Linked DNA regions of Homo sapiens. The protein of the gene in region 1 purifies or fractionates together with the protein of each later gene. This does not show direct contact. Each region holds a gene or a part of one and is shown on either strand. Other genes may lie near its edges.

The links.
Region 2: the proteins of ZNF555 (region 1) and MTCL1 purify together in Homo sapiens (affinity purification with mass spectrometry; 2 studies listed by BioGRID and IntAct, with this or other methods). This does not show direct contact.
Region 3: the proteins of ZNF555 (region 1) and HERC1 purify together in Homo sapiens (affinity purification with mass spectrometry; 2 studies listed by BioGRID and IntAct, with this or other methods). This does not show direct contact.
Region 4: the proteins of ZNF555 (region 1) and MIGA1 purify together in Homo sapiens (affinity purification with mass spectrometry; 2 studies listed by BioGRID and IntAct, with this or other methods). This does not show direct contact.

Annotation. Positions count from the first base shown.
Region 1 is NC_000019.10:2,836,377-2,844,801, forward strand, and holds the start of ZNF555 (zinc finger protein 555), read left to right. Parts: upstream 1-5,098; 5' UTR 5,099-5,196; coding exon 5,197-5,199; intron 5,200-5,783; exon of another isoform or gene 5,784-5,902; coding exon of another isoform or gene 5,903-5,911; intron 5,912-8,425. UniProt on the Homo sapiens protein: May be involved in transcriptional regulation.
Region 2 is NC_000018.10:8,820,254-8,827,870, forward strand, and holds part of MTCL1 (microtubule cross-linking factor 1), read left to right. Parts: intron 1-1,213; coding exon 1,214-1,245; intron 1,246-3,917; coding exon of another isoform or gene 3,918-3,963; exon of another isoform or gene 3,964-4,105; intron 4,106-4,445; coding exon 4,446-5,979; intron 5,980-7,301; coding exon of another isoform or gene 7,302-7,357; intron 7,358-7,617. UniProt on the Homo sapiens protein: Microtubule-associated factor involved in the late phase of epithelial polarization and microtubule dynamics regulation.
Region 3 is NC_000015.10:63,655,883-63,663,499, reverse strand, and holds part of HERC1 (probable E3 ubiquitin-protein ligase HERC1), read left to right. Parts: intron 1-295; coding exon 296-516; intron 517-1,478; coding exon 1,479-1,747; intron 1,748-2,474; coding exon 2,475-2,527; intron 2,528-3,563; coding exon 3,564-3,764; intron 3,765-4,766; coding exon of another isoform or gene 4,767-4,781; coding exon 4,782-4,956; intron 4,957-7,141; coding exon 7,142-7,412; intron 7,413-7,544; coding exon 7,545-7,617. UniProt on the Homo sapiens protein: Involved in membrane trafficking via some guanine nucleotide exchange factor (GEF) activity and its ability to bind clathrin. Acts as a GEF for Arf and Rab, by exchanging bound GDP for free GTP.
Region 4 is NC_000001.11:77,774,659-77,782,796, forward strand, and holds the start of MIGA1 (mitoguardin 1), read left to right. Parts: upstream 1-4,990; 5' UTR 4,991-4,997; coding exon of another isoform or gene 4,998-5,078; intron 5,079-5,146; exon of another isoform or gene 5,147-5,534; intron 5,535-8,138. UniProt on the Homo sapiens protein: Regulator of mitochondrial fusion: acts by forming homo- and heterodimers at the mitochondrial outer membrane and facilitating the formation of PLD6/MitoPLD dimers. May act by regulating phospholipid metabolism via PLD6/MitoPLD.

The DNA.
Region 1 (8,425 bases):
GGCCTTTATTTCAGCATTCTGTTTCAGTGTTTCACATTGGCCACTTAGCTAGATCCGTTTGTCTTCTGCAGTACTGTGCTGATCCAGAGTATATGCTAAGACGGAAAGCGCTTTGGAGGTAAAGTTTAAAAAATACAAGGGCTTCAAAATAGTACTAGTAATTTGATCCATTCACAAAAGGACAAAGGCTGGACAGAGACGTGAAGAAATGAATCATTTACGCAATGATTGGGGTGTTCCAATTATGTGTGATTTTGTGTTTTCTGCCGTTTCATTTTGTATTGCCATAATCATTTTGACAATGAATACAAATCAAATAGCACCCAAAATTGTGAAGGATACGGAACCTCATTGATGAGTCAGGATAGACTGTGGGTACCTAGATGGTAGAGACATAGTATAGTAGACTTTGGGACATAGAGGGTGGAATGACCTTTGGTGGCCTGGGAAAAGTCCCGCCTGTGAGATGTCCCTAGCAAAATCAAGACCAGGAGTGCTGATGTGCATTATCGTCATGAACATGTATTGGATGCTTACTGTATACCAAGCACCAGCCAAGTACTTCCATGTGGTTCTTCATTTAGCCCTCACGACCCCATGAGATAATCACTATTCACATTCCATTTTACAGAAGACAAAACGGAAATAATTTGCTCAAGGTCACACAATTAGAAAGGAGTAGAATCTGGGCTGGGCACAGTGGCTCACACCTGTGATCCCAGCACTTTGAGAGGCTGAGGTGGGTGGATCACTTGAGGTCAGGAGTTCGAGACCAGCCTGGCCAACATGGTGAAGCCCCATGTCTACCAAAAAATACAAAAATTAGGGAGGCCGAGATGGGCGGATCACCTGAGGTCAGGAGTTCGAGACCAGCCTGACCAACATGGAGAAACCGCATCTCTACTAAACATACAAAATTAGCCGGCATGGTGGTGCATGCCCGTAATCCCAGCTACTCGGAGGCTGAGGCAGGAGAATCGCTTGAACCCGGGAGGTGGAGGTTGCTGTGAGCTGGGACAGTACCATTACACTCCAGCTCTGGGCAACAAGAGTGAAACTCTGTCTCAAAAAAAAAAAAAAAAAAAAATCTGGGCGTCGTGGTGCACGCCTCTAGGCCCAGCTATTCAGGAGGCTGTGGCATGAGAATAGCTGATGTTTCAGTGAGCCGAGATGGTGCCATTGCACTCTAGCCTGGGTGACAGTGAGACTCTGTCTCAAAAAAAAAAAAAAAAAGTAGTGGACTCTGGATTTGACCTTGAGCACCCTGTACAAAGCCACACCTCATTTGCCAGGCCACCAAGCAGGGGAACTGTTTTCCAAATGTTCTCTTGGAAAGCTGGGTGTAGTGGCTCACAACTGCAATCCCAGTATTTTGGGAGCCTGAGGTGGGAGGATCACTTGAGCCCAGGTGTTCAAAACCAGCCTGGGCAACATTGACCCTGTCTCTGCAAAAAATACAAACATTAGCCAGGCATGGTGGCTCACGCCTGTAGTCCCAGCTACTCTGGGGGCTGAGGTGGAAGGACCGCTTGAGCCCAGGAGGCTGAGGCTGCAGTGAGCTATGAGCATACCACCGCACTGCAGCCTGAGTGACAAAGCAAGACCCTGTCTCAAAAAAATTTTACAAATTTTCTCTTAGGACTCATCTAACTTTCCTGTGAATGTTCCCTTTTTCCTTGAGCTAATGAGGGAGGTTGCCCGTCAGATCTCCTTTCACCCAAATGGAACATGTTGCTTTTCCTTAGAGATCCTTGATCCATGGTCAGTCTAGACCCTATTGGGTTGATGAGTAAGTTTCTTTAGGGGCTCTGTGAACAACTTTGAGAACAACTTTGTGTGCTGGTGCATTGATGTGTTTTTTGGGGAAAGCATCTGTAACTTCCAGCATATTCTTGAGAAGGGTTGACTTAGAAGTCTCCTGACTGTACTGTTTTCAGTCTTGTTATCTCCCTCCAGCAATTATATTTTATTTTTTGAGATGGAGTCTCACTGTGTTGCCCAGGCAGGAGTGCAATGGTGAGATTTCGGCTCACTGCAACCTCTGCCTCTGGGTTCAAGCGATTCTCCTGCCTCAGCTCCCAAGCAGCTGGGACTACAGGCATGCGCCACCACGCCCGGCTAATTTTTTTTGTATTTTTATTAGAGATGGGGCTTTCACCATGTTGGCCAGGCTGGTCTCAAACTCCTCACCTCAGGTTGTCCACCCACCTCAGCCTCCCAAAGTGCTGGGATTAGAGGCGTGAGCCACCGAGCCCGGGCACACTATTTTTAACTGGAAGCTGCTTTCCTATGTCAGTCCTCTAAACATTAATTTTTATAAAAGTGTGTAAAACCTTCCTAGGAAAGATAAAAATAAATTTTAAAAATTGTTTCTAAATGAAATGTCAATATCAGAATTTGAACAACCACTTAAGCTATGGAGTTTTCTGAAATGAATAACCATTAACTGTGTTTGGTTTTCAGCCCCTGTCTATTAAGTGTATTCAGTGTTTTCAGGCCTATCACAATCGTTTTTCCTTTTTTTAAAAAAAATTGAAGGCTGGGTGTGGTGGCTCACACCTGTAATCCAAGCACTTTGCAAGTCCGAGGCAGGTGGATCACCTGAGGTCAAGAGTTTGAGACCAGCCTGGCCAACATGGTGAAACCTCATCTCTACTAAAAAAATAAAAATTAGTAGGCCAGGCGTGGTGGCTCACACCTGTAATCCCAGCACTTTGGGAGGCCGAGGCGGGTGGATCACATAAGGTTGGGAGTTCGAGACCAGCCCGACCACCACGGAGAAACCCCGTCTCTACTAAAAATACAAAATTAGCCAGGCATGATGGCAGGTGCCTGTAGTCCCAGCTACTCGGGAAGCTGAACCAGGAGAATCGCTTGAACCTGGGAGGCAGAGGTTGCAGTGAGCCGAGATCTCGCCATTGCACTCCAGCCTGGGCAACAAGAGCGAAACTGCGTCTCAAAAAAACAAAAAACAAAAAAATTAGCTGGGTGTGGCGGGGCAGGTCTGTAGTCTCACCTACTCGGAAGGCTGAGGTACGATAATCACTTGAACCCGGGAGGTGGAGTTTACAGTGAGTCGGGATCCTGCCATTGCACTCCAGCCTGGGTGACAGAGCAAGACTGAAAAAACCAAAAATTTAAAAAAAAAACACTTCCCTCCTAAGGTTCAATCCAATTCATTTAAACTTTTGCGTGTTTTTCTTATATCAGTTAAAATAGGGATTCAATATCCTTAGAAATATAGCCTTTTCTGTTTTAAATATAACATCTAAAAATTGTAGTAAAATACAAATAACAAATATTTACCATGTTCATCATTTTTAAGTCTAAAGTTCAGTGGCGTTAGATACGTTCCTGTTGTGCAATATTATAGACTTCCTTTTTTTTTTTTTTTTTTTTTTGAGACGGAGTCTTGCTGTGTCCCCCAGGCTGGAGTGCAGTGGAATGATCTTGACTCACTGCAACCTCTGCCTCCCTGGGTTCAAGCGATTCTTTTTGTTTTTGTTGTTGTTGTTTGTTTGTTTGTTTGTTTTTGAGACGGAGTCTCGCTTTGTCACCCAGGCTGGAGTGGTGGAGTGCAGTGGCGCGATCTCGGCTCACTGCAACCTCTGCCTCCCGGGTTCACGCCATTCTCCCGCCTCAGCCTCCCGAGTAGCTGGGACTACAGGCACCCGCCACCAGGCCTGGCTAATTTTTTTGTATTTTTTAGTAGAGACGGGGTTTCACCGTGTTAGCCAGGATGGTCTCGATCTCCTGACCTCGTGATCCGCCCGCCTCGGCCTCCCAAAGTGCTGGGATTACAGGCGTGAGCCACCGTGCCCGGCCTCAAGCGATTCTCTTGCCTCAGCCTCCCTAGCTGGGATTACAGGTGCGCGCCACCACGCCCGGCTAATTTTGTATTTTTAGTAGAGACAGGGTTTTGCCATGTTGGGCAGGCTGGTCTTGAACTCCTGACCTCAGGTGATCCGCCCGCCTCGGCCTCCCAAAGTGCTGGGATTACAGGCGTGAGCCACAGCGCCCGGCCAGCTTTTCAATCTTCCAAATTTTGGGGGGATGTACTTAAAAAAATGATCTGAAAACATTTTCCTTAGAGTTTAAAATATGAACTTGAGAGTTTTTTTGTTTTTTAATATGGAGTCTCACTCTGTCGCCCAGGCTAGACTGCAGTGGGGCGATCTCGGGTCACTACAACCTCCACCTCTCGGGTTCAAGCAATTCTCCTGCCCCAGCATCCCCAGTAGCTGAGATTACAGGCGCCCGGCACCACGCCGGGCTGATTTCTGTATTTTTAGTAGAGAAAGGGTTTCACCATATTGGCCACGATGGTCTCAAACTCCTGAACTCAGATGATCCGTCCACCTCGGTCTCCCAAAGTGCTGGGATTACAGGCGTGAGCCACTGCGCCCAGCCAAATGTGAGGGTTTTAATGAACATCTCATATCTTCTGGTTGATTTGAGCAAAGCTCCTGCCCCCTGCCAGGCTTTGGGTTCGGCCTCCCCCAGACCGGGTCTCCGGATTCGCAGCCCCCTGGGCGGGGTCTCCATGTCGCCCGCAGCGCGATGACGTCACGTCTGCGGGTCCCGCCCCCACGTAGGTCTCGGCCCTTCGGACCCGGCGCCCAGCCCCCGTTCGCCCTGCCAGGCCCGGGCCGCCCGCTTGCATCCACCTCCTGTCCGGACAAGGGGTCGCCTCGTGAGGAAACTAGTCTGGAGTTCCCACGCCCGTCCCGGAGGAGGACGCGGGCGGGGCGCCCGAACTGCGGGGAGAGGGCGATTCCGCCCCGGGCTGAAACCAGTTCGCCCAGAAGCCAGTGTCCCCGCAGGGCGGGACAGCCACGCGTGTTCGCAACGCTCCCGTCACTCACCGGCAGGGGGTGGGCCCTAGGGAACTACCCAGTCAGGACGGGCGGGGGCGGGGCCGAGACAAGTATCCAATGAGGGACGCCCAATCGGAATCCGGGGAACTGCCCAATTTACAGCGCCAGGGGACGGACTGGGGAATTCTCCAATCAGAGTCGCCGACGTTGGCAGCACTGTCCAATCAGAAGCGCGGCTTCCCGAGCTCTGTCTAATCAGGCCCCTGGGACGGGACGCCTCTGTCCTAGCCGTGAGTGCCCCGCCTGCCCCTAGCGGTCCCTGGCGTCCCGGTTCCTGTCGCGCTCACCTGCGCCGGTAGCGAAGAAATCGCCCCGGGACATGGTGAGTGTGGCGCAGGAGAGGATCCCGGTGCGGGGCAGCAGGAACCGGCGACCGCCCGAGACCGCGGCTTGGGGGGAGCTGAGGGACGCGGGGGGCGGCCCCGGCGAGGGCGGCGCAGGACGGGAGCCTGGGCCCCGGGGGTCCCGCCCGGCCCCGCCTCCCGCGCTGAGGTCGCGGCTAGGGCGCTCCGAGCTCCGGGTCCCCGCCCGCCTCTGGCCCCAAGGCTGCAGAGCGGGGAGCGGCGCCCGGAGCCCGACTCCGTCCCCGTCGTCCCGGGGTCCCCGCGTCCCTGCGCTCCCGACCCCCCACGCCCCGCCCGGGGCCGCGACGCCTCGGAGCGTTTCGCTGCGGCTTCGGGACCCCCGGGCCGCGGGAGGCAGAGTCGCCCGAGACCCCGAGGTGCGGTCCAGGCTCCCCCGGGACCCGCCCTGGGGCCGACGCCGCGGTGCCTCCTGGGGTGCGGGTCCCTGGTCGGTGCCGCCTCCGCTCGCGCTCCCGCGGCTCAGCTCCTTGGAGGCCCCGCGCCTCCGGCCGCGGTCTCTGGGGGACCCTGGGTTCCTCCCGGGACAGCCCGGGAGCGGTGGGGCCTCGGCGGGGGCGGAGACGCCCCCACCTGCAAAGGCAGCCCCTGGGGCGTGCGAGGTTTCCTCCCCTGAGTCCCGGTTTTCCTTCTTGAGGACTTCTTGTCCCCTCTGACCCCAAGATGCCTGGGGTAGGTAAGGGGAAAAAAAACAAGGGTTCCTGGTCCCTGGGCTCTCACACACAAGGAAGAAAAGTAACTGAAAAGACTAGAGAAACAAGGGAGAGCGAGGACCCCAAAAGCAAACGCACGCAGACCCACAGCGGGGACGCCCGGGAGGCTGGTGCATTAGTGTCCTCGGACTGCTGTAGCAACTGACTGCAAACGAGGGGGCTAAAACCACGGAAATATATTCTTTCACGGTTCCCTAGAAAGTGTGGATTTGAAGACGTTTCTCAGTTCTGTTTTGAGTACTAGCAATGGGATTCCTTGCTGAGGCAACACCTGAGTTGGGGGTGGGAGGGCGTCCGTCGTGGTAGCCTGGCCAGACTTGACCCCTCCCTGGGTTTGTCACTGTGAAAAGATTTTCCTTTTTTCGAGTCAGCAGTTTTTAGGAAGTGAAACGTACATTTAATTAGTAGAAGTTGGAAGATAAAATATTTCCAGGCCGGGCGCGGTGGCTCAAGCCTGTCATCCCAGCACTGTGACAGGCCGAGGGGAGCAGATTACTTGAGGTCAGGAGTTGGGGACCAGCCTGGCCAACATGGAGAAACCCCGTCTCTGCTAGAAATACAAAAATTAGCTGGGCGTGGTGGCGGGTGCCTGTAGTCCCAGCTACTCGGGAGGCTGAGGCGGGAAAATCACTTGAACGCAGAAGGCGGAGGTTGCGGTGAGCTGAGAACGCGCCATTGCACTCCAGCCTGGGTGACAGAGCGAGACTCCGTCTCAAAAAAAAAAAAAAACTTCCAACGGGGTGAATTTCAGGAAAAAAATTAAAATCTGTGTCTTACATTCCATTTGTTAAACATTCCCTGGAGTGTGTGTCGTTTCTCAGATCTGTTATTTTCTGTTTTCTTTTATTACTATTATTTTTTTGGGAGCTCTGTTGCCCATGCTGGAGTGCACTGGTGCGATCACAGCTCACTGCAGCCTCCACCTCCTGGGCTCAAGCAATCTTCCTGCCTCAGCCTTCTGAACACAGGGACTCCAGGTGTGTGCCGCCATGCCTAAGCTTTTGTATTTTTTTGTTTCTAGGGATGGGGTCTCATTCTGTTACCCAGGCTGGTCTCGAACTCCTGAGCTCAGGTGATTCTCCCTCCTCGACCAGCCTTGTTCTTTTCTTTTGAATGACAATAAATAGGATTCCAGGGCCTAAACTTCAAAATGTTACTGGGGAGAAGAGTCTCAGAGAAACAGAGAAAATCTCCTTTCCACCATACGTGCAGAAAAATGAATACATTGCCACGAAACATGTTGCAGATAAATTATACAAATTTACCAAAATATGTTATTCTCCTTGACATGGTAGAGAATTTTTGACGGTGGATGATTCTGTTCTGCTTCCAATACTGCAGTACCCTTACCTTAATTCTATAATACATTTTTTGTTGTTCCTGAAATAGGTAGAATACAAGATATTTTTCTTGTTTAGATGACAATTTGTCCCAGCTCCTTATATTAAAGTGTTTATCCTCTGCAATGCCGGCCCTGGCACTGATCAGATTTCCCCGAACACAGGGGCTGCCTCAGGGCTGTGTCCCTTTACTTTGTTTTTTTGTTTTGTTTTGTTTTGAGACAGGGTCTCGCTCTATTGCCCAGGCTAGAATGCAGTGGTGCTGTCTCGGCTCATTGCAATCTCTGCCTACTGGGTTCAAGTGATTCTCCTGCCTCAGCCTCTAAAGTAGCTGGGACTGTAGGCACCTGCTACCATGCCTGCCTAATCTATCTTTCTTTTCTTTTCTTTTTTTTCTTTCTCCCTCTTTCCTTTCTCTCTCTCTCTTTTCTTTTTTTTTTTTTTTTTTTTAAAGAGGGAGTTTCACCCTTTTCGCCCAGGCTGGAGTGCAGTGGCAGGAACTTGGCTCACTGCAATCTCTGCCTCCTGTGTTCAAGCAATTCTCCTGCCTCAGCCTCCTGAGTAGCTGGGATTACAGGCATCCGCCACCACGCCCAGCTAATTTTTGTATTTTTAGTAGAAATGGGCTTTCACCACATTGGCCAGGCTGGTCTCGAACTCCTGACCTCAGTTGATCTGCCCGCCTCAGCCTCCCAAAGTGCTGGGATTACAGGCGGGAGCCACTGCACCTGGCCATTTTTATGTATTTCTAGCAGATACAGGGTTTTGCCATGTTGGCCAGGCTGGTCTCGAACTCCTGACCTCAGGTGGCCCGCCCGCCTCAGCCTCCCCGAGTGCTGGAATTATAGGTGTGAACCACCATGCCCCCAACCAGGGTGTTTTAAAATTGGCGGCTGGTCACAGAGGTCCCCTGTGCCTGGCTGTGCCAAGATTTCAGACACCCAGGAGGAAAGCAGATCTTTAGGGTAAACACATTGTTGCATAAACAGTTTCAGCACAATAAGCAACTCCTCTATTGGGATGAGAACCCTCCCCAAATCCAGGCTAGCTTATGCCAGCCAAGGGCCAACTTTGCAGGCAGGACTTTCTAAGGTTAGGGGCCCTCAGGCCTTTGGGTTGGCTCTTCCTGCGTC
Region 2 (7,617 bases), on another chromosome or scaffold:
AAAAAAATTAGCCAGGCGTGGTGGCGGGTGCCTGTAGTCCCAGCTACTTGGGAGACTGAGGCAGGAGAATGGCGTGAACCCAGGAGGCGGAGCTTGTAGTGAGCCAAGATCGCGCCACTGCACTCCAGCCTGGGCGACAGAGCAAGACTCCATCCAAAAAAAAAAAGTTGATTCTAGGACTCATTACCTGTGAAGCAGTTCAACAGTTGCTGCACCTATCATTTGGTCTCCTAAACACTCAAGACTTAGAAGAGTTCATATCAAATAGTGTTATTGAAGTATGCAGAAATTATATTTCACCCACATCAGTAAGGTCAAATGCCTTATCCTCAGCAATGTGTACCAGGTTGATAGGACATTGCCACAGTCCCACCCTGTCTGATCTATTGGCAATCTTATACAGTCCGATTACATAGTAGAGGTAACGTGGGGTGGGGTCAGGAGCCTGTGCGTGGGTTCCAGCCCACTGGACCCTGCATGGCAGAGACAAGGGGCATGCTCATTAAGGGGAAGGGTACCCCTTGCTATTTACTGTCTTGAAAAATATGCTTCCCTTACTGTTAGTCAGAGTCTTGCTGCTTCAAAACCACATCAGCACAAGAGTGTTTTCTCAGCAGACAACCTCGTGTTTATGCCGTTCTCTACAAACACAGCTATCATTCTTCTTAAAGGGGAAGGCACTGTACTTTGCCTCTGATTCTAAATGGGAATGTTTAAAACCAACCAAGTGCCCGAGTCTAAGGATGTCACGCCAACTTCTACAGCAAGATCGGGACCACTAACGTTACTCTATCACCTTCCATCTTTCTCTCTAACATAACACATGCACACTCTCTCTCTCTCTCTCAGTCTCACTCTCACACTTAGGTTGTTACAAATCCCGCTTTGAAATTCATGTAGTCAGTGAGGTCCTTTGAGGAAGCACAGAAGAGCCACCTCCTCCATGACAAAGTTTATAGCCAGTTGTTCTCACTCATGTGGGCTTCTCCCTGGACTACAGAAGCTCCAGCCCCTCATCATGCTGTGGACTCGCTTTGATGATTGTACTTTAAAGGCCTCAGGGCAGTAGCACTCCTAACCAGAGCTTGGCCTCAGTGCACATTTTAAATGGTGGTTTCCTGGGGGTGCAGAGCAAACAAATCACTTAAGTACATTCAGGGCTTCTGGACAACCAAAATTAACCGATTCAGATGAAGTTATTTCTTCTTTATAGGAAGAAGAAAATCACAAAGGAAATCTTCAAAGGTAAGTAAGATTGATGAAAATAATAGATTACTAGAATAAAAATGTCTTGGTCTTAAAATGTTGTTTTGTCAATGCAGTCTATTTTACCACTCTCTTCAAAATGACTTAAAATTATGCCACTTCTGAAGAAGTGGCTGCTTTATTATTCATTTCATAAACATGGTATTTTTGATTATTAACAAAGAAGTTAGACGTGCTGTGTCACATGTGTATGAGTTTTATGGTAAGGACTTTCCAGTTGTTGTTGTGTTATGTATACAAAGGAATGCTTGTGTTGAGTGGTTTTTGAAAGGTCCATGGAAACCTCTCTTTTCTCATTTAAAGTCTGGGAAAACTCTCTTTTGTATGCTGTGAGATGCTTTATACACTGTATTTAAAAGCTCCACTAAGAGAATTTATTAAAATATTTTCTGGCAGTAGTCCTTGAAGAAGATATATAGTGGTTGATGTGGTTGTTAGTTACACACCAGTTTTTTCCTCCCCAGTTTAATTTCCTCCAGTTTTACTTTTTCATCATTCTCCAAATGAATACATACCGTTTCTACTACATGAAATTTCTTCTCAGGCAATTCAGCATTTCCAGATCGCCTCATCCTTGATTTTCCTCTGAACTTCGAGTCTGTGAATGACTGTCCTCTTCCCATTTGCTCCCTGCCAGATCTCTGCAGCACCTAGCCATGCCTGTGGCACACTTCTGTCCTTCACGCTGTCTTCTCTGGTCTTTCTTGGGTGGTACAGGACAGTACTTGAGAGCTCAGGCTCTAGAGCCAAACTGCCTGGGTTGGTTGGTTGGTTGGTTGGTTGGTTGATTTTTGAAATGGAGTCTCGCTCTGTCTCCCAGGCTGGAGTACAGTGGCACAATCTTGGCTCACTGCAACCTCTGCCCCCTGGGTTCAAGCAATTCTGCATCAGCCTCCCAAGTAGCTGGGATTACAGGCAAACCCCACCATACCCGGCTAATTTTTGTCTTTTAATAGAAACAGAGTTTCGCCATGTTGGCCAGGCTGGTCTCGAATTCCTGACCTCAGGTGATCCACCCGCCTCAGCCTCCCGAAGTGCTGGGATTACAGGCGTGAGCCACTGTGCCCAGCCCAAACTGCCTGGGTTTGAATCGCTTCTGCCTCCTTGGGTAGGTTACTCAACTGCTTTGTGCCTCAGTTTCCTCATCTGTATACAGGACGTATTTTGATTATCTTTTTTTTTTGCAGCTTATGTATGTTAATACACATAATGAAAGCAGCACATGGCACAAAACAAACAGTAAACAGAGTTTAGTCATTACACCCTCCCACCTTCCCCGTTCACAGCAGCAGCCACATCAGTGTTTCCGGTTAGGCTTTGGAGCAACTGTACTTCACCACTCAAGCCATCAACTTTTATGCTTTCAAAAGTAACACATGCTTGTTATAAAATGTAAATATTGGCTGAGGCAGGAAAATTGACCGAACCCGGGAGGCGGAGGTTGCAGTGAACCGAGATTGCGCCACTGCACTACATCCTGGGCGACAGAGTAAGACTCCGTCTCAAAAAAAAAAAAAGATAGATAGATAGATAGATAGTCTCAAAATATCCAAAGTGGAAACTGGATGCGCCCTCCCCACTGTCCCCATGTCCTCTGATTCTGACTGCCCGGTATGTTTCCACCATACTCTCTTCGTTCCACCTGCAAGCGCCTACACATGCTCCAGATGTATCCCGGGTTTTCTCATCATGGTTTTGTTTGCTTTGGCCACTGCTGAGGTTAATGCCTCTGCTTTCTCTGTCTTTATCATCTCTGTTCCACCATATCCATCCATGCCCCAGAGGCACTGAGTTCCCACCCAGGTAGGTGCCACTGATTTAACTCTGAGACAGTTCCTCTGTGGGCAAAAGTGGGAGTTAGATGAGCTATGTCCACAGAAATGTGGAAAGGACCAGGGTGTTGGCATGTGTCCGGCACTTACAGTCCCCAGCGAACAGTGTTCTGAAACTCATCATTAATTCAGCAACTCCTTGAATTGAGAAGAGGGAAATTCATACTTGCTGGAAAGCTCATGACCTTGGGACAAATCAACCCATCCCTACCATTGCCCTTCCTTTCCGGCACTGGATATAGCCAGCTTGTGGTTATTCAAAGCACCACTGGACAGTTTGTAGATTATTTCTAACAACAAAAAGATAACAAGATGGAATGCCTAACGATGTCACTTTTAGCCTGCTGTTTTACCCCGTGGTGCTGACCACATGGACGGGTGCCTTGCCCCCAAGGTGAAGCCAGCTGTCAGCAAAGCTGCCCAGAGCTTTGCTGGTTCTGTGTACCAGCGCACACGGTACAGGGACTTGCTCAGAGCAGACCCCAATTCTGGCCTCATCATCATTAATAGGTCCTATGGAGGAGTGGTCCATACACTCAATCTGGGACCCCTTCCACAGGGCCTGCACTAGTCTAGATCCCTAGGTTTAAGCCTGTGCTTTGTGGGGTGAAAGGAGTATCAGTATGTCCTGTAAGAATCTGGACAGTGAGTCTACAGACACCTCATCGCCCCATCCCACCCCAGCTGGAGGGATTCCAGGCCAAAGAGGTTCTGTTGCCTGAGCCAGCAGGCACAGGCAGCCCCAGCCCCGTTCCTGACCACCACTTCTTTGCCCTGGTGGTAGTCGTGCCCGAGCACTCCGGCCACTTTCTGTCTTAGCCTGGAAGCATTGCTGGCACCCCTGCAGCACCTGCCAGGCATGTGAGAGGCATTCAGCGAACTCATGGCAAATTGAAAGTGCTAACACATGGAAGAATCCACACCAAATCTGTGTCCATCAGGTGGCAGCTTGCCAAAACCTGGCCATCGCCGTGGCTCACCGTCTTCACCCTTCAGCTGTGGTCCGAGTGAGTCTCCTGAGAATTCTCACTGAGGCACTGAGGCCTCAAGTGATTCTCCTGTCTTGGCCTCCCAAAGTGTTGGGATTACGGGTGTGAGCCAGAGTTGGTTGTATTAAATTCTGACCAATGCAAGGCTTCAGGAACAATTCCAGAGCCACGCAGAGTCCAATAAATGCCCGCAGGGTAAGTCTGTGAGTGCAGCACATGAGCAGCTGACAGTGTTCTCCTGGTGTGGGTGGCAGCGGGTGCCTTCACTGACACTTCTCATGCAGGGCAGGACATGGGTGTTGTGGTGTGTCAGAGGCTCCCTGGCAGGTACTGACACCCTCTTTTCTGCTTTTCCCAGGGCGGTGTCCGTGTCCTCCATGTCTGAGTTCCAGCGTCTAATGGACATCTCCCCCTTCCTGCCTGAGAAGGGCCTGCCGTCCACCAGCAGCAAGGAGGATGTCACCCCACCCCTGTCTCCAGACGACCTCAAGTACATCGAGGAGTTCAACAAGAGCTGGGACTACACACCCAACAGGGGCCACAATGGTGGGGGGCCGGACCTTTGGGCCGACAGGACCGAGGTGGGGCGGGCAGGGCACGAGGACAGCACAGAGCCTTTCCCCGACTCCTCCTGGTACCTAACCACAAGTGTCACCATGACCACGGACACCATGACCAGCCCAGAGCACTGCCAGAAGCAGCCACTGCGGAGCCACGTCCTCACCGAGCAGTCGGGGTTGCGCGTGTTACACAGCCCGCCTGCCGTGCGCAGGGTCGACAGCATCACGGCGGCAGGTGGTGAGGGTCCCTTTCCCACAAGCAGAGCCAGAGGGAGCCCGGGAGACACCAAGGGAGGCCCTCCAGAACCCATGCTCAGCAGGTGGCCTTGCACCTCCCCCAGGCACTCCCGGGACTATGTGGAGGGGGCACGGCGCCCCCTTGATAGTCCCCTCTGTACCTCCCTGGGGTTTGCCTCCCCACTGCACAGCCTGGAGATGTCCAAGAACTTGAGTGATGACATGAAGGAGGTGGCCTTCTCTGTCAGGAATGCCATCTGCTCCGGCCCTGGCGAGCTGCAAGTCAAGGACATGGCCTGCCAGACCAATGGGTCCCGGACGATGGGGACCCAGACTGTTCAGACCATCAGTGTGGGCTTGCAGACTGAAGCCCTGCGTGGCAGCGGTGTCACCAGCAGCCCCCACAAGTGTCTCACTCCAAAGGCTGGGGGCGGTGCTACACCCGTGTCGTCTCCTTCCCGGAGCCTTAGGAGCAGACAGGTGGCCCCTGCCATCGAGAAGGTGCAGGCCAAGTTTGAACGCACATGCTGCTCCCCCAAGTATGGTTCTCCCAAGCTGCAGAGGAAGCCCCTCCCCAAAGCCGACCAGCCAAATAACAGGACGTCACCAGGGATGGCCCAGAAAGGGTACAGTGAGTCAGCCTGGGCCCGCTCCACCACCACAAGGGAGAGCCCCGTGCACACCACCATTAATGATGGCCTCTCCAGCCTCTTCAACATCATTGACCACAGCCCCGTGGTGCAGGACCCCTTCCAGAAGGGGCTGCGGGCCGGCAGTCGGTCTCGCTCAGCAGAGCCCCGACCAGAGCTGGGCCCAGGCCAGGAAACAGGCACCAATTCCCGAGGAAGGTCGCCTAGCCCCATTGGGGTGGGGTCAGAGATGTGCAGGGAGGAAGGGGGAGAGGGCACGCCAGTGAAGCAGGACTTATCTGCTCCCCCTGGCTACACGCTCACTGAGAACGTGGCCCGGATCCTCAACAAGAAGCTGCTGGAACATGCCTTAAAGGAGGAGAGGAGGCAGGCTGCCCACGGGCCCCCGGGTCTCCACAGTGACAGCCACTCGCTGGGGGACACAGCCGAGCCAGGGCCCATGGAGGTAATGAATGCTGAGTGCCCCACACCCTTCCCCACCAGCTCTTCCCTTTAGCTGTGGGGCAGGTTGGGACTTGGGATTGTGCTCTGTCATTTGATCTCAGGAATCGTCCATGATTGGTTATTGGGAGCTGGGGAGGTGTTAGGTTTATGGGAGAATAGAATAGGCAGAAAAAGCCCTGAGCAACTTTTTTGAAGAAAATGTTATTTTATTGTCCTTGGGAAATCATATAGTACATGGTTTGATTTGGGTTCTGTCACCAGTCTTAAGTGATTGATCCTTATTTATCAGGGCATTTTATTTGGGGTCAGTTTGCCTTCTTTCTGTGTGAATTCGTGCACATGTACAAACTATGGGATAGTTGTGTCAGGCTTGCTGCATACTGCAGACCTTCATATGTGACAGCATGAGGTGAGCTGGAGAGGGTCTGGACCACATGAGCACGAGCACTTCTCATCAGGAGCCACAAGATCTCGATTCCTGGGCTGGCTTCCTTACAAAACAGCCATCTGGCAGCTCACAAATCACTTACCCTCTTTGTGGCCATGAGCCCCCCTAGCAGTAAAACCAAGTGAAACATATAGACAAAATCAAAATCCTACCCTAATACAATATGATTATCATTATTGCCCTTGATATTACTCACAAATCAATCCACTGTGAATTGGGTTCTGATGCACATCCACATGTGGTGTTTTTGTACACCACTTTACAAAACGCTTCCCATTTCCACTTCAACAATGAGCAAAATGAAAGCCTGATGTTGATGCTGGTGGTGATGGCTATGGTGATGCCACTTTGTGGTTCGTGCAGCACAGAGAGGACGTGTCTGTCCAGCGAGTGATTCCAACTCGCCAGGAGTCCGGATGAACAGGCTTCACACTGGGAACACCTGGCCCCATGAGCACTCTCCGAGCCAGGCTGCTCCCGCAGATGGCGGGGGTCAGAGGAGGAGGAGGACGGCAGCTTGCTCCTGGTCTGCCCGCTGCTTCCTCGCCAGGACCCAAGCAGCCCTGGCTTCATGGGCAGGGAGAGGAGGAAGGTGTATTGCCTGTTTCACCTGGCCCACGTTTCCCACAAGAGGGTAAATGATGGCTGTCTTCCCAGCCTGGCCCACCAATGAATGTTTAACTCAGAATGCAGGCTTGAAATCTGAATAGGTCAGACCTGTGGAACTGCCAATGGCTTACAGAAGTGGCAATTCCATATGGTTCACACCTAATACAAATATTGATACTACATGGCCTACATGTTCCAAGATCTGAGTCTTTGTGATAAAGTTGTTTGCATGCTCTGAGGACAAACTGCTGGTTGAATGTTCTCAGGTGACAAATGGTGTCTTCTTTGGGCTACTGTTACCCCATCCTTCTGGGGTCCTCAGGTAAGTCCTCCTGCCGTGGAACGGTCTGTTTATATGTGAGTGCCCTGCCTTCTTAGGGCTCTGAATCTCAGTTGAAATTGGGGCTATGTCACAAAGCATTAACCGGCTGTGTCTGTATTGTCTGTTTATATTACACACCAAATAGAAATTATTCTTTAAGAACCAAAAAAATGCTTTGAATTACGAATAGTGAATCCTGCAAGCAAAAATAGGTTCTTGATGGAATCCCAGCATTATGGCATGAAAACGGTTTTATCAGT
Region 3 (7,617 bases), on another chromosome or scaffold:
TGAGTGACAGATCCAGATCCTGTCTCTAAAAACAGCAACAAAAACATTATAAAGCATCGCATGGATTCTCTTACTTAAACCTATCAATAACCCAGTGAGATATGAGTGCTATTATTATCCCCTTTTGCAAGAGAGGAAACACACGTGATAGGTATAATTTGATGTTTTATGGTCTGAGATCCAATAAGACAACTGAGATAGGTTCTCACCTACATGTATGGCAGTTAAGAACTGGCGAAATATTCAGAATTATTTTATGCATGCAAATAAAATGCCTTTTTTGTTTTGTTCTGAGCGGGATTATACCGCTCTGTGCAGGCCCACAGGAATCAAAGTCGGAGAGAAGGAATATCTTTGCAGCAAGACCCAGGGGCGTTGTATGACTTTAATTTAGATGAGGAATTGGAAATTGATCTTGATGATGAGGCGATGGAAGCTATGTTTGGACAAGACCTGACCAGTGACAATGATATTCTGGGAATGTGGATCCCAGAGGTACTGGATTGGCCTACCTGGGTGTGTGTGACTGCAGCGGGGGCTGCTCTGACTTATTTTCCTGCCCTCCTGTTCATATAGCTTACTAACAGCAGCCTTGCCTAGAGTTGAAACACTCTAAAAAGTCTTTTATCTCATCCTGAGGTTTGGGGATTTAAAGTTATGAGGTTACTTTGATACCTACAAACTAATAAGGAAAAGTCTCTCTTGCTTTCTCTGTGGGATTTTATTGTTTCTCTCCCCAGACAAGATGAATAGAGTCATACTGTGGTAATATTTGATTCTGATGTCAAAGATAAATTACAAAACAAGCATCAGGTTCCAGTAGACGTTGACAGGTTATATAACATGGCTGCTGTGCTCACATTGCTATCTGAATGCATGTTCTTCTCCTTCATAGGTTCCATTTAATCAATGTAATGCCTTATTCTAGGAACCAGTGCTCACCTAGATCTTGTAAATACCTCCATTTAGGGGCAAGGTACATGGTGGATTTGTATATACATTGGTTAGCATTACATTTTTGTAGTAGGGAGACCAAAAAGCTCATAGATGTAAGTCCTACAGGAAAGAGAATCTGCTATATAAATAAGTGAATCATAATGATTTTTCCCAAAAATTCATAAAGTAGGTATGCATTTTGTGACCAGATGAAAATTAGTTCTTTTCACTAGTGGAGTTTTTTTTTTAAAAAGCCTCATTTTGAGATAGGACAGATTGTCATGTTCATTAACTCTTCTCAGTAGGATACTCAGTTACTTGTATTATTGATATAACTTATTAGAGTGAGAGAGGGCAAAGAACACCTTCCGATTGTGTTATCTGAATTCTGATTTGAAAGAAATTTTTTATTTAGCATTAATGAACATGTTGGAAATATTCTAGCATATGTAATAAAGTAATTTAATATAAATAATCTACTTGGTACTTCTTGGTTTTATGTTAAATTGACTAATCATTTGGTATGAAATCCTTTTGTGCAGCATGTTTGTGAGTCTGAAGACAGGGAAGAAGTGGTGGTGTGTGAACTGTGTGAATGCAGCGTCGTCAGCTTCAATCAGCACATGAAGAGAAACCATCCAGGCTGTGGGCGCAGTGCAAACCGCCAGGGCTATCGCAGCAATGGTTCCTATGTGGATGGCTGGTTTGGCGGTGAATGTGGGAGTGGAAATCCGTACTACCTGTTATGTGGCACCTGCAGGGAGAAGTACTTAGCCATGAAGACCAAATCTAAGTCAACAAGTTCTGAAAGGTACCTTGAAATTGTGTAGATATCCAGACCTCCTGAAGATACCTCATACCTTAAGTCTTGGGAACTGTAGATTTTTCACGTGAGGAGTTACATTTAACCTTCCCTGAAATCCCGTGATTCTTACACTTTGGGCAGAAGGGATGGAGGGGTTTCAGAAATTCATGTTCCCAGGAATAATGGCATAGCAACATATCCTTCCCTGGAGTTTGACTGTGTTAACCTCTGACTTGTTGGCAAGTAATGGTCAGGACCCTTGCCTTAACCCTCAGGAGGCTTCTACTCAATTCTTTTCATTTGTATTTTCTACCATATTTCTGGCATTTTAATTAAGATCTTTTTCCTGATGAAAAAAACAGACTTTTGATTAAACGAGTTCCATAAAAATATTATCTCTTTACATCCTTAATCCCTAGAGAGTAGGTTTGTTGCCCTTAATTGTCAACTATTAAAATCTTTAAGGCTTTATGGAATAGAATTTGGTTAAAAGAGTTGTTTTAGGTAACCCAGAAATCTCCCCAGTAGTTTGGTAAAATAATCATTGATTTTGTAAGCATGTGTGTACCTACATACCAGCAGTTTTTATTATGTTAGCCTATAACATGAAACATACTTTTTTATTTTGTGCTGCTTTATTAATGACCTCTTAAAATGTTCTAATGACTTAATTTGCATCTTGGGGTACTAACTGTTTTATATAAAAATGCAATGTTCTTCATGTTTGGTGCAGGTACAAGGGACAAGCTCCAGATCTAATTGGCAAGCAAGACAGTGTGTATGAAGGTAGTTTGTTTTGAGAGCTTCTTTATTTTACATGTTTTTTTATATATCCTCTCTGCTTAACATCTGTTACTAAAATTCACCTTCGTGTGTGTGTGTGTTTGTATTTGTGTACATGTTAACTTAAATTTTCCCTTAAAAACTCAAGGGAATTTAATAGCAACAACGCTGGTTTAAAAGTCAAAGGAAAAGAACGTGGTTTCAAAGACCAACTTTACCACAGAATATTAATTTCTATTAGGTGTATTTTTTTTTCAAAGTAGGGAAAGGATGTGGTATATTTTGAATTTCCACCCTAATTGTGGAAAGTAAAAAATAAATAGAGATGAGCATTGATTTTTCTGGAGCACTCATTTTCTTGAAATAACTCATTCCCTAATGATTACAGACAGCTAAGAACTCTTTGTTGGACCCATGACAATATTTTTAATTAGTTTAAACCTCTATTACCAGCTGTAGCATTTGCTATTGCTGTCAACTTATTTAACTACATTGACTCCCTTTCCCTGAGAGTCTCACTTATGCTTCAGGAGTGCAGTTTGGTTAAGTTTTCAGGAGATGGTGCCATAGTTCATTATGTGGTCACTGGACTTTCAGTCCATCTGCATTTTATGTATGTATGTATTTATTTATTTATTTATTGTTTTTATTTCTTTGAGATGGAGTCTCACTCTGTTGTCCAGGCTGTAGTGCTGTGGCGTGATCTCAGCTTACTGCAGCCACGGCCTCCCAGGTTCAAGCAATTCTCCGGTCTCAGCCTCCTGAGTAGCTGGGATTACAGGCACACACCACCATGCCTGGCTAATTTTTGTATTTTTTGGTGGGGATGGGGTTTCATCATGTTGGCCAGGCTGGTCTCAAATTCCTGACCTCATGTGATCCAGTCGCCTCGGCCTCCCAGAGTGTTGGGATTACAGGCGTGAGCCATCGCATCTGGCTGCTCATCTGCATTTTAGATGTATTTTCAGAACAACCATTGCCAGCAGATTTATGTAATATTTAAATTCACATACTATACATTTATTTATTTAAATTCCAGAAGACTGGGACATGTTGGATGTTGATGAAGATGAAAAGCTAACTGGTGAAGAAGAATTTGAATTACTTGCTGGACCGCTTGGTTTAAATGACCGGCGCATTGTACCAGAACCAGTTCAGTTCCCTGACAGCGATCCACTGGGAGCATCAGTAGCAATGGTCACAGCCACCAACAGTATGGAAGAGACTCTGATGCAAATAGGTAAACTGAAATCCTGATTTGCATTGATTTTATAGCATCTACTATAATTTGTTTCTTAGATAGGTAAATAATAATAATAAAGTAAAAGTAAATAAGACTAATGGTTCAACATTATCTCACCCCAACAAGTCTCTTTAGCCAGTTGTTTTAACATTTTGAAGGTATAATGTGGTATTAAGTTTTGGCTGGGCTTGGTGGCTTATGCTCGTAATCCCAGCACTTTGGAAGGCTGAAGAAAGAAGGTCGCTTGAGGCCAGCAGTTCAAGACCAGGCTGGGCAACATGGTGAGACCCATTTCTATTAAAAAAATGAAGAAAAGTAGCTGGGTGGGTGGTGTGCACCTTTAGTCCCAGCTACTCAGGAGGCTGAGGCAGAAAAATTGTTTAATCCCAGGAGTTTGAGGTTATGGTGAGTGATGATTGAGCCACTGCACTCCAGCCTGGGTGACAGAACCAGACCCTGTCTCAAGAGGAAAAAATAAATGTTTTGATTTTTTTTTGTCTTTCATGATACCGAAGCAATAAAAAGATTTATAGAACTTGTTATTTAAAAAAAAACTTGGTGTTAAGAGAATCCTGTAACCAACTTAAAATTATTGTGCAGTCTTCTTTTTATTTGGGTGAGAGGGTGTGGTAAATTTTTGGTATAGGGAATACAAAATAAAGAATTGGGCAGTATTGGTAATTCAGTCCTTTATAAATTCTCAAAGCACTTATAATCAGTAGATGTGATACATGGGCAAAATGAACAAAACAGAAAATACTTACTGGTAAATTAAGTATAAATACTCCTATGGTAAATACATTGTTAACATAGAAATATCTAAGTTAGAAATATCCAAGTTCAAACTTAGAAATATGTGAGTTTCTCCTAAGAAATTTTCTGTATAACCAAGTTCCAGATGAGCAAAAGACATTGGTTTGTTATGGAACCTCTGTAGAATAGGAAATGTTTTTAGTAGTTCAGATGTATTTTTTTCTTACCTTGTTGAGAACAAAACAGAATTATGTTTTTCAGGTTGCCATGGCTCCGTAGAAAAGAGCTCCTCTGGGAGAATAACGTTAGGAGAGCAGGCAGCTGCCCTAGCAAACCCTCATGACCGTGTGGTGGCTTTAAGGAGAGTGACTGCTGCTGCTCAGGTTCTTCTGGCCAGAACCATGGTCATGAGAGCGCTGTCTCTTCTCTCAGTCAGGTAAGTGTTATTTTATGTCACATGATGCTAAGTTAACTTCTAGTGTACATTAGCTGGAAGTCTGGTGGTGTTTGGGAGGGTGAGATAGAATTTTAGAAGCTTGAATATGTACTGTTGAATGAAAGATGTTAGACGTAGTCATTGTTATTCACTCAATCGGTCATTCAGTTAATACTTGGCTCTTTTTAGGTAGAAAATAATGCCATTATCACAACTGAGTAAACTGCATACATTTTATTTTGTTGCTTGAAATGGGAAACTAAGGCTGTTGATCCCAATGGTGCTGGATCAAAAACTAAAGGTCAAAATGTATTGACCGTCTGTGTAGCTAAGTCAGCCTGCAGATGCCATCATGGGGATCCTTGCCGTGTTGATACTGTGGAGTGTAATGTAAAAAGGGGATGAGAACCAGAAATACCTAAAAGACAGCTGTTTAAGAAGTGATTAAGCAGGAGTATTTAATGGCAAATCAGTGAAGGCAGAAAGATCCTGAAAGAAAAACAAAATTTCCATAAGACTGTGTGCTATTGGCTCAAGGATAGGCAAATAGGATAGTACAGAAGAGAGTTAAGAAACTGACCCATACATATAAATAAACACTTGATTTATGGTTTGATTTATGACAGTGGTTCACACTGTAGAGCAATAGAGAAAGGCTGTTTTTTTCAGTAACTGAAGCAGGGTCTGATGGTTTATCCACATAGAAAAAAAAAGCCTTGGTCCCAACCTCAAACTATATAAAGCAAATAGTTATAAAGTGGCTATTAGATCTAAATATAAAAGAAAAATAAATCAATAAAGTTTATTGAAGGTAACATAGAAGAATTGCTTCTTGGTCTTGGGACAAGCAAAAATTCCTCAAGCAAGTCACAAAAGGAATCTGCCATAAAAGATTGATAAATTGGAATACAATAAAATAGAAAACCTCTGTTTAGCAAAAGTGATTTGAAAAGTAAGAAAGTAAAAAAGCAAGCCATAGAATGGGAGAAGATATTAGTAATGCATCTAACCAACAGAATGTGTAAAGAATTCCTATAAATTAACAAGAAAAAGACAACCCAGAAGAAAGTGGACAAAACACATTAAGAAGTGTTTCACAAAAGAGGATCTCCAAATGGCCAATAAACATGAAAAGATGTTCAACCTCAGTGAGTCTTCAGAGAAATGAAAATTAAAATCCAGTGTGATTGGGAGGCCAAGACGGGAAGAACCCTTGAGCCAGGAGTTTGAGACCAGCCTGGGAAACATAGTGAGACCCTGTCTCAAAAAAAAAAAAAAAAAAACCTAAGACAAAAAACCCACCAATGAGATACCATTGCACACCCACAAGAATGGCAAACATTTAAAACACTAGAGAGAAAAAAGTGACTGAAACAGCTAAAACTCCCATACATTGTTAGTGAGAAAATGAATTGGTATAACCACTTTGGAAAACTGTTCGATAGTATCAACTAAAACTGAACAGGAACATACTCTGTGACCCAGAGATCCACTTCTGGGTATATATCCAACAGAAATACTTAAATATGTGCCCCCTAAAGACCAATCATTCATGGTAGTACTATTCATAATAGCCCCATGTTGGAAACCGCCTGATTGTCATCTGTAGGGATAAATGAACTGTGGCAGATTTCATGTATATGTCAATGAAAACGAACTGCTCAATGCTACAAGATTTGGATGAATCTTACAAACATAATATTGAAGAAGCCAGACACAAAAGAGTACATATATTAATTATTCAATTGATGTAAAGTTCAAAAACAGGCAAAACTAACTTGTAGCTTTAGAAGTCAGGATAGTGGTTACTTCTGAGAGCATCGTGACTGAGAAAAGCCCAAAGCAGGTTTCTGAGGTACTGGCAATGTTCTGTTTCTTGATCTGGAGGGCGGTGACATGGGTTTGTTCAGCTTATGAAAATTTATGCTTTGTGAACATTCCTGTTTTACTTTGTCAGTTCAATTGTACTTCAAGTATATGCCAATACTTATTAAAAGGAGAGAACGTTTAGATGCCAGTTTCCAGCTTGATACCTTTGGCAACTCTTAGGACATGTATGGCTAATGATAGTGCAGCTTACATTTTATTATGGTTGTTGATGCTGTGAATGTTATGTGGGACTGCAAATGGTCCCTTAAGAAATCCATTTTCTTTATCCATCTGAGATGTTTTTCTTTACTGGCAGTGGTTCCAGTTGTAGCCTGGCTGCTGGTCTTGAGTCTCTGGGGCTAACAGATATCCGAACGCTAGTTCGATTAATGTGCTTGGCAGCAGCAGGGAGAGCTGGCCTCTCCACCAGCCCTTCTGCCATGGCTAGCACCTCAGAACGATCACGAGGTGGGCATAGCAAGGCTAACAAGCCTATCTCTTGCCTGGCCTATTTGAGCACAGCAGTGGGATGTCTGGCATCAAATGCTCCTAGTGCTGCCAAACTGCTTGTACAGTTGTGTACACAGGTAAGCTACTTTCAGTACTTTTCCCCGTTACATTGATTATTTCTGACTGATTCTTGAGCCTTTTGAAATGAAATATTTTTGTTCCAAAATTACATGTAAAAATTAAGTCTGTTTTTCCAATTGCTTCTTCAGAACTTGATTTCTGCTGCAACAGGTGTAAATCTAACCACAGTTGATGACTCAATTCAGCGAAAGTTTCTACCCA
Region 4 (8,138 bases), on another chromosome or scaffold:
AGTTCAGGGGGGCCTCAGTCGGCACTACGGGTGCTCCTTGGAGCCACACGCGGCTCGTTGTAGAAGTTGTGGTGCCAGATCTTCTCCATGTCATCCCAGTTGGTGATGATGCTGTGCTCTATGGGGTACTTCAGGGTCAGGATACCTCTCTTGCTCTGGGCCTCATCACCCTCGTAGGAGTCCTTTTGACCCATGCCCACCATCACACAGATGTGGAAGGGCAGCGGAGCTCTGTGCTCGCGGGGTGGACGCGGTCTTAGCAGTCTGTTCTACATTCTTAACCTTTTTTTTTTATGGACCTCTTGGCTTTCTGGTAGAGTCTGGGACCCCCTTTTCAAAGTAATGCTTCTATGTGCATAAAACAAATACATGGGATTACAAGGCAAACCAACTATATTGAAATACAGTTGCCTCCTTGGATCCTATGGAGGTCCAAGTACTCAAGTGAAAAATTTCCATAAGAGCTGGGTGCGTTGGCTCACACCTGTAATCCTAGCATTTTGGGAGGCCAAGGCAGGCGTACTGCCTGAGTTCAGGAGTCTGAGAACAGCTCAGGCAACACAGTGAAACCCTGTCTCTACTAAAATACAAAAAATTAGCTTGGCATGGCAGCATGCGCCTGTAGTCTCAGCTACTTGGGAGGCTGAGGCAGGAGAATTGCTTGAACCCGGGAGGTGGAGGTCGCAGTGAGCCGAGATCGTGCCACTGCATTCCACCCTGGGCAACAGAGCGAGACTTCGTCTCCAAAAAAAAAAAATTTTCCATAAGATTCTTAGTTCTTTCTAAGCATTACTATATTTGTCTTTCTTTTTCTTTTTATTTTTTGAGACAGAGTCCTGCTCTGTTGCCTAGGCTGGAGAGCAGCGGCGTGATCTTGGCTCACTGCAACCTCTGCCTCCTGGATTCAAACGATTCTCCTACCTCAGCCTCCCGAGTAGCTGGAATTACAGGCACGCACCACCACATCTGGCTAATTTTGTATTTTTAGTACAGATGGGGTTTCACCATGTTGACCAGACTGGTCTCGAGCTCCTAACCTCAAATGATCTGCTCACCTCGGCCTCCAGGTGTGAGCCACAGTGCCAGGCCTATATTTGTCTTTCTAACATGCCAGGAGGAAATTGAGACATGAAAAGGGTAAGTACCTTGCTGAAGACCACTGTGACATAAAAAATACATATTTGGGCCAGGCACTGTGTCTCACACCTATAATCCCAACATTTTGGGAGGCTGAGGTGGGAGGATCACTTGAGCCCAGGAGTTTGAGACCAGGCCCTGGCAACATAGGGAGACATTGTCTCTACTAAAATTTTAAAAATTAACTGGGCATGGTGGCAAGTGCCTGTAGTCCTGGCCACTCAGAAGACTGAAGCAGGAAGATCACTTGAGCCCAGGAGTTCTAGGCTGCAGTGAGCTATGATCACACTACTTCAGTGCAGCCTGGGCAATAAAGTGAGATCCTGTATCAAAGCAAGAAAGAAAGAAAGAGAGAAAGAGACAAAGAAAGAAAGAAGGAAGGAAGGAAGGAAGGAAGGAAGGAAGGAAGGAAGGAAGGCGGGCGGGCAGGCAGGCAGGCAAACGAGACAGACAGAAGGAAAAGAAACAAAGAAAGAAAAGATATATATTTGCTCTCTGTCCCCAGTCCTGACACAGAGCTCCTAAATCTCTTGGAATTTCCCGGTTGATAGGAGTGTCTTTTTTTCTAATATTCTTGTTGGGCTCCTGGATAGCTTCAGGATAGGGGCTGGTCACCAGCAAATTCAAGCTATGATTAGAAGCTTAAAAATGTTGGCCCCATACCTACCCTATCCTCTGTGGAGGAGAGAGTAGTTGAAGATTGAGTTAATAATCAATTATGGTTACATTGTCAGAGGGTTCAAACCAGAGCGACTCCGTTTTGAGTGCGGGCTAGGAAAATGAGGCTGGGACTTGCTGGGCTGCATTCCCAGAAAGTTAGGCATTTCTAGCTTCTAAACATTTACAGTTAAGGGAACAGATTGATAATGTTTACTAAACAGACCCAGACTTGGGAGTGTCCTGATGTCCCTGATACCTTGAGAGCAAAAGCATTCCTAATTTTGCTTTAAAGATAATAATATTAATTCTTGCAAAATATGGTAATTAAGAAAATTAATCTTTTACCACAAACCCTCGTAGCAGAGCACATCTTCCCATGATCTTTTTTTTTTTAACTCCTCTATAAATGAATATTGTACCTAGAGTGGATGCATTCCTCTTCTTCCTTTTGGGAACGCCCTACTCTGTCTATAGAGTAAGTGGACATTCACCACTTCACTGTCTTAAACTTGCTTTTGCTTTGGACTGTGGACTTGCCCTGAATTCTTTCTTGTGCGAAATCCAAGCACCCTCTCTTGGGATCTGGATTGGTACCCCTTTCTGGTAACAACATTATGAAGCCTCCACAGAAATCCCTGAAGTACGGGGTTCTAAGAGCTTCTGAGTTGGTGAACACATCCATATCCCAAAAAGGTCATACACCCTGATTCCATGGGGACAGAAGTTCCTGCACTTAGGATCCTTCCAGATCTTGTTTTATGTACCTCTTCATCCGGCTGTTCATCTGTATCCTTTGTAATATCTTCTGTTATAAATCAATAGACTGGTTTGGGATGGGAGGAGAAGATTGTGGGAATTCCTGATTTATAGCTGGTTGGTCAGAAGTACAAGTGACAACCTGGGATTTGCAATTGGTATCTGAAGTGGGGGCAGTCTTGTAGGACTGAGCCCTTAAGGGTTTGGTGCATAGTATTGAATTAAATTTAACTGTACAACACCCAGTTGGTAGACACTAAATTAAAGAGTGGAGTTTATAATAAGAAATAATTGGAGACTTGTTTGGTGGGGAAAAACCTCCACACATTTGGAGTCAGAAGTGTTGAAACTACAGAAAAATAGCTTTGTGTTTCTTTTCCTTTAACAATGCATCTAGTAAGTGGCCAAGAAAGGATTCAAACCCAGGCAGTCTGACTTCACAGTTTTGTTTTGATATTATGCAGATAGGATCCCCTAAATTCATTAATGGTTGCTGTAGCATGTATTGCAGTACTTGTACAGAAGAAACAACTGGTAGTACTCCATGAACTCCATTCTCTGGTTTAGTGAGCATTACACGATGGCTTGGTTATCTGGGGGAGGTACTGGCCTTCAGAATTAATCCAGGCTCCAATTTTTTTTTCCTTGTCTCCAATATCAGAAGACATTGAGTCCCCTGTCCTTCTGGTTTAAACCACTACTTGTTTGGTTTTCTTTTACTTGTAGCGAATATGTTAACTAATATATCCAATAATGGCTAAGATTGAGTGCAGTACTCTGCCAAACCAGAAGAAGGGAGGCTTACAGCAAATTACATTTGGTTTATAAACATAAATTAAATGTGATATTTCTATTTTATATATTTTATTATTATTTTGTAGAAATGAGGGTCTTGCTATTGCCCAGGCTAATCTCGAACTTCTTACCTCAAGGGATCCTCCCTCATCGGCCCCACAAAGTGTTGGGATTACAGATGTGAGCCACCTCACTTGGCCTAAATGTGACATATCTTATTCTCATGCTAAAGAATAAACTCTGTACCCACCGTGTAATACTATTTTTCTCATAATGTTTATTGTGGAATTAAGGAGATAATATGGTCTCAGGAAAGTTGTGTTGAGTGGTAGTCATCATCATTACTGCTATTCTCATTACGTTGAATGTTTGGAAGCTGTGGGAAATGGGAAAGAGGAGGAAATTGGGAAAATAAATGAAAATAGCCTTACAAATTTCAGGTTCTTCAAGTCTCAAGAGCTCCATTTACCCTATAAGTGCAAAATATTTTCACATAAAACCCAGTCTGTGGATCGTTAGTTATTATTAATCTAATAATATCATAAATTGGTACTACTATTCTATTTTCCATTTGGTTAAATGGGAATTTTGAAAACAGAATTATTTTGGCTTTTCACCACAAATATGCTCAGCAACTGGAATTCTTAAATCTGCAGTTTTTTTGTTTTGTTTTGTTTTGTTTTGTTTTTTGTTTTGAGACAGAGTCTCACTCTAGTCACCCAGGTTGGGGTGCAGTAGCACTATCTGGGCTCACACAACCTCCGCCTCCCGGGTTCAAGCGATTTTCCTGCCTCAGCCTCCCGAGTAGCTGGGATTACAGGCAGGTGCCTGGCTAATTTTTGTACTTTTAGTAGAGATGGGGTTTCGCCATGTTGGCCAGGCTGGTCTTGAACTCCTGACCTCAAGTGATCTGCCCGCCTTGGCCCGCCAAAGTGCTGGGATTACAGGCTTCAGCCACCGTGCCCCGCCTAAATCTGCAGTTCTGATGGAATGTTTTGACTGAAGACTGAACGTAGAAACAGTACCTTGGGTTTTGTTGTTGTTATTTTTTCCTAACCCGGCCCCCTATTAGTTTACTATGTATTAGAACCTGAGAGAGGTGACTACTCTGCCAATAAATTGCCACATTCAATATTCTTCGGTTGCCTAATTCAGTGGGAAACACAGAAAAAAAGGTAAAGAGGACATGAAATCAATAATAAATGCATCATCTATACCGGATTGGAATGCCTCTTAACACTCATTCATCTGAGGGCTGAGGGCCTGTGGTAGAAGTTCTTAATCTTGTTTTCAGGGTTTTGAAATTGTGTAACTTTTTTTTCTTTAATGTAATGAGCATGTGTATACACATTTTTTTTTTTCCAGGGGAAACCCTCCATAATTTTTACCAGATTGACAACCGTTCTAGATCCCCCGACAGGTTACGAACTACAATACTAGTTTTTTTTTTTTTTTTTTACCGGTTTGTAAAAGGATGCAATTCTTCGAATATAGTTTTTGCATCCACTTGACGAGGAAGGAGCCTCTACCCTAAACAAAAATGGCGGGAGCTGCTTCACACGTAGTCCCTCACGCAGAAAGCCTGGAAGGCCCCCTCCACTTTCTCTCCACCTTCGCACTCCTGACCCCGGAAGGACTCCGCCTTCTCCATGTCAGACTGCTGCTCAGCGCCAGGCATCAGCTGGGAAGCTGGCGTGGGCAGGCCAGCTGTACCTGGCCTGGAGCTCCAGGTACAGGGCCAGGGGCGGGGTGGGGTGGAGAGGCGGGCGGGAGGAAGCGGAGAGTTGAGCGGCCACGCAGTTGGGGCAGAGGCCTCGGGGCAGGGGTGGCGCGGACTCCATCGCTGGCGTTAGCTCTCGGAGTGCCAGGTGGAGCGGCGGAAAGCCAGAGGGTCTACGGCCGTGCCACCCTGAACACCCCCGACCTCGTCTCATCTCAGAAGCTAAGCAGGGTCGGGCCTGGTTAGTACTTGCATAGGAAAGCAGGAGGGTCCCCACGCCAGAGGGAGGCCTGCAAAGGAAGCGCGGAATTGGGATGGGCTCGCCACTGCTCTGAGCCAGAGGAAGGGTCTGGACGGCCGAGCTGGAGGGACCCCCTTTTCTGGTGTTCTTGGCAAAGAAAAAGGAAGACAGCAGAGGAGAGCTCCGCGAGGGGCTGCTGTGGGGTCGGGGGAGAGCGCGCTGGAGGTAGGGCAGCTGGTGAGGTCTCAGGTTCGGCTTGGATGCGGGTGGTTTTGAGCAGGGAGTGGCTTTTGGATGTGAAAGATTACTCTGCTTTGCAGGTGCTTTAAGAGAATAATTTAGCACGGGAGTATTGTGGTGTCAGGTCCTTCTGTAAAGTTGTTAAATTATCTATTTTCCAGAGGGAAGACTCAGCTTGTTTTTGCACAGGACTTTGAAACCTTTATTATTGTTGTTTTATTGTTGTTGTTATTGCAGCTAAACATGTTTGCTCTGTTCAAAGTGTCAGAGTTAGGTTATATAGATTTGTGCTTCACGTCAATTTTCTTTTTGATACTTCAGACTTTCCTTCCTGTTGGATTATAAAGTCAAAGTTGCAGGATAGAATTTTAAGATGTCTAAGAAACTGTTTATGACACTTATTTTTAATTCCCCAGTAGTTGGAATGTAGAGGAGCAAGTAATATCACACAGGACAATATTTTTGGTTATGTTTTATAGATTCCGTCTATAAATTTGAATAATCATGAAACCCCCTTCATGTTTATTTTTATTATGCTTCTGAAAGCAAATGAAATGACTAGTTTTTTGTTTTTTTTTCTTTAGTTTTTCAATGAATAATGATTAGGTTTGGAATCAACTTCCTCAGTAATATTAAATGAAAAAGAATGAGGTAGTTAGAATGCAAAAATAGAGGTTTGTCATAATATTTTTTCTTTTTTCTTTTTTTTTTTTTTTTGAGGCGGAGTCTGGCTCTGTCGCCCAGGCTGGAGTGCAATGGCGTGATCTCTGCTCACTGCAACCTCCGCCCCTAGGGTTCTAGAAGTTCTCCTACCTCAGCCTTCCGAGTAGCTGGGATTACAGGCGCCCGACATCACTCCTGGCTAATTTTTTTGTATTTGTAGTAGAGATGGGGTTTCGCTATATTGGCCAGGCTGGTCTTGAACTCTTGACCTCAACTGATCCACCCACCTCGGCCTCCCAAAATGCTGGGATTACAGGCGTGAGCCACCACGCCTGGCCGAGGTTTGTCATAATCTTTTAAGAATATCTCTGCAGCCAATTAAAGTGTTTGCTTTATTTTCTTTCTATTCTGCTTAAAAATTTGGAATGCTCCATTATAGGGAAAATTACTTTGGGTGAATTACTCAATACGTTTTTTAAATGCAGTAGCATAGATTGCTTAATGATCCAGAATCTAATTAGTAAAAATGTTTCTCAAAATAAAATGTGTTAATATTTAGGGAGGGGGAAGAATAAATGAGCTTCCCCCCACTTCCTTTTTACTGTAGTAATATTAAAAAAGTAATACATGTAGGCAGGTTTTTAAAAATCAAGTATTACAAACAGACTTATAAGGAAAAGCAGTCATTCTTTGCCCAGCTTTTCTATATCCCTTGTCTTATTCTCCAGAGGACCATTTTTCACTTTCTTAACTGTTCATGGTTTCCTCTGTACTTTTTAATCATATGTCTCTATCACAGGTTGTTGACTGAAATAAATGTATGTCAAGTAGAACTAACTATACTGAATCTAAAAGTTGTACTTAGAACACTGGTAGGGGGGATTAAGTTTATACTGCTGTATCCCTAGTAAGGATTAAGGGAAGCATCAGTAGTAGTAACCCACCCTAAGAGGTATTGCTGTGTTTGATTTTAAAGGAAACCACTACTTAATCAGTGGTTTTGACACTTGTCTGAAAACAGGTGGGTATTAACAGAAGGGGATAGTCTATTGGAGTATAGAAAAAGAGAACATAGAAATGTATGCAGAAATGAAGGGCCTAAAAAAGTGTAGCAAATAATTTTTTTTTTTTTTGGTGTAGGCAGGGTTTCACCATGTTTCCCAGGCTGGTCTCGAACTCCTGGGTTCATGGACTCAAGCAATCCACCCATCTCGGCCTCCCAAAGTCACTCCCAAAGTGCTCAGGCATGAGCCACTCACTGTGCCCAGCCGCAAATAAACTTTTATAGAGGGATTGCTGGTAATTTTTATATTCTGTTATGTAATATACAGCACTACCCAAATAAAAGAAATAATAAATTTGGTAGACATAAACATTGTGGTTATTAGAGAAGCCCATTCTCTTGTGCATTAGAGATAATGCTTAGGCGTTTTCTTGGCCTGAATGAAATATTCCTCAGGACTCTTGATTTTTGCACTCATCAGGCAACATTTTTGACTTATTAGTTCAGCTTCCTATGGTCTTTTATTTCAGGGATGGTATGTTTTGATAGAATATGTACACTAGATCGTTTATTTCTTTATTATAAATAGATAAACTTGTAAAGTGATTTATGCATCAATACCATGTAAATTTGTTTAACATGTGTTCAACTGGGTACAGTGGTAAAATTACGTTTCTGGCTCTATAAAGCAGAGACCCAGACCCTGAACCACTGCCTTAATGACCTCTCTTTGTGTGTCAACTGCTTCTCTGTACTCATCTGACTTTTCTTTTTTTGTTTAAGAGAAATAATACGCATTAAAACTATACCAAAATCATATAGCATATATGTGGCATTTCTTTGAAGATCTTTAAAATGAGACAATAGGAGAATAAATGCGTGAGTTCTGGAGTTCAGTCAGTGAACTCTGAGGTTCTAGCCCC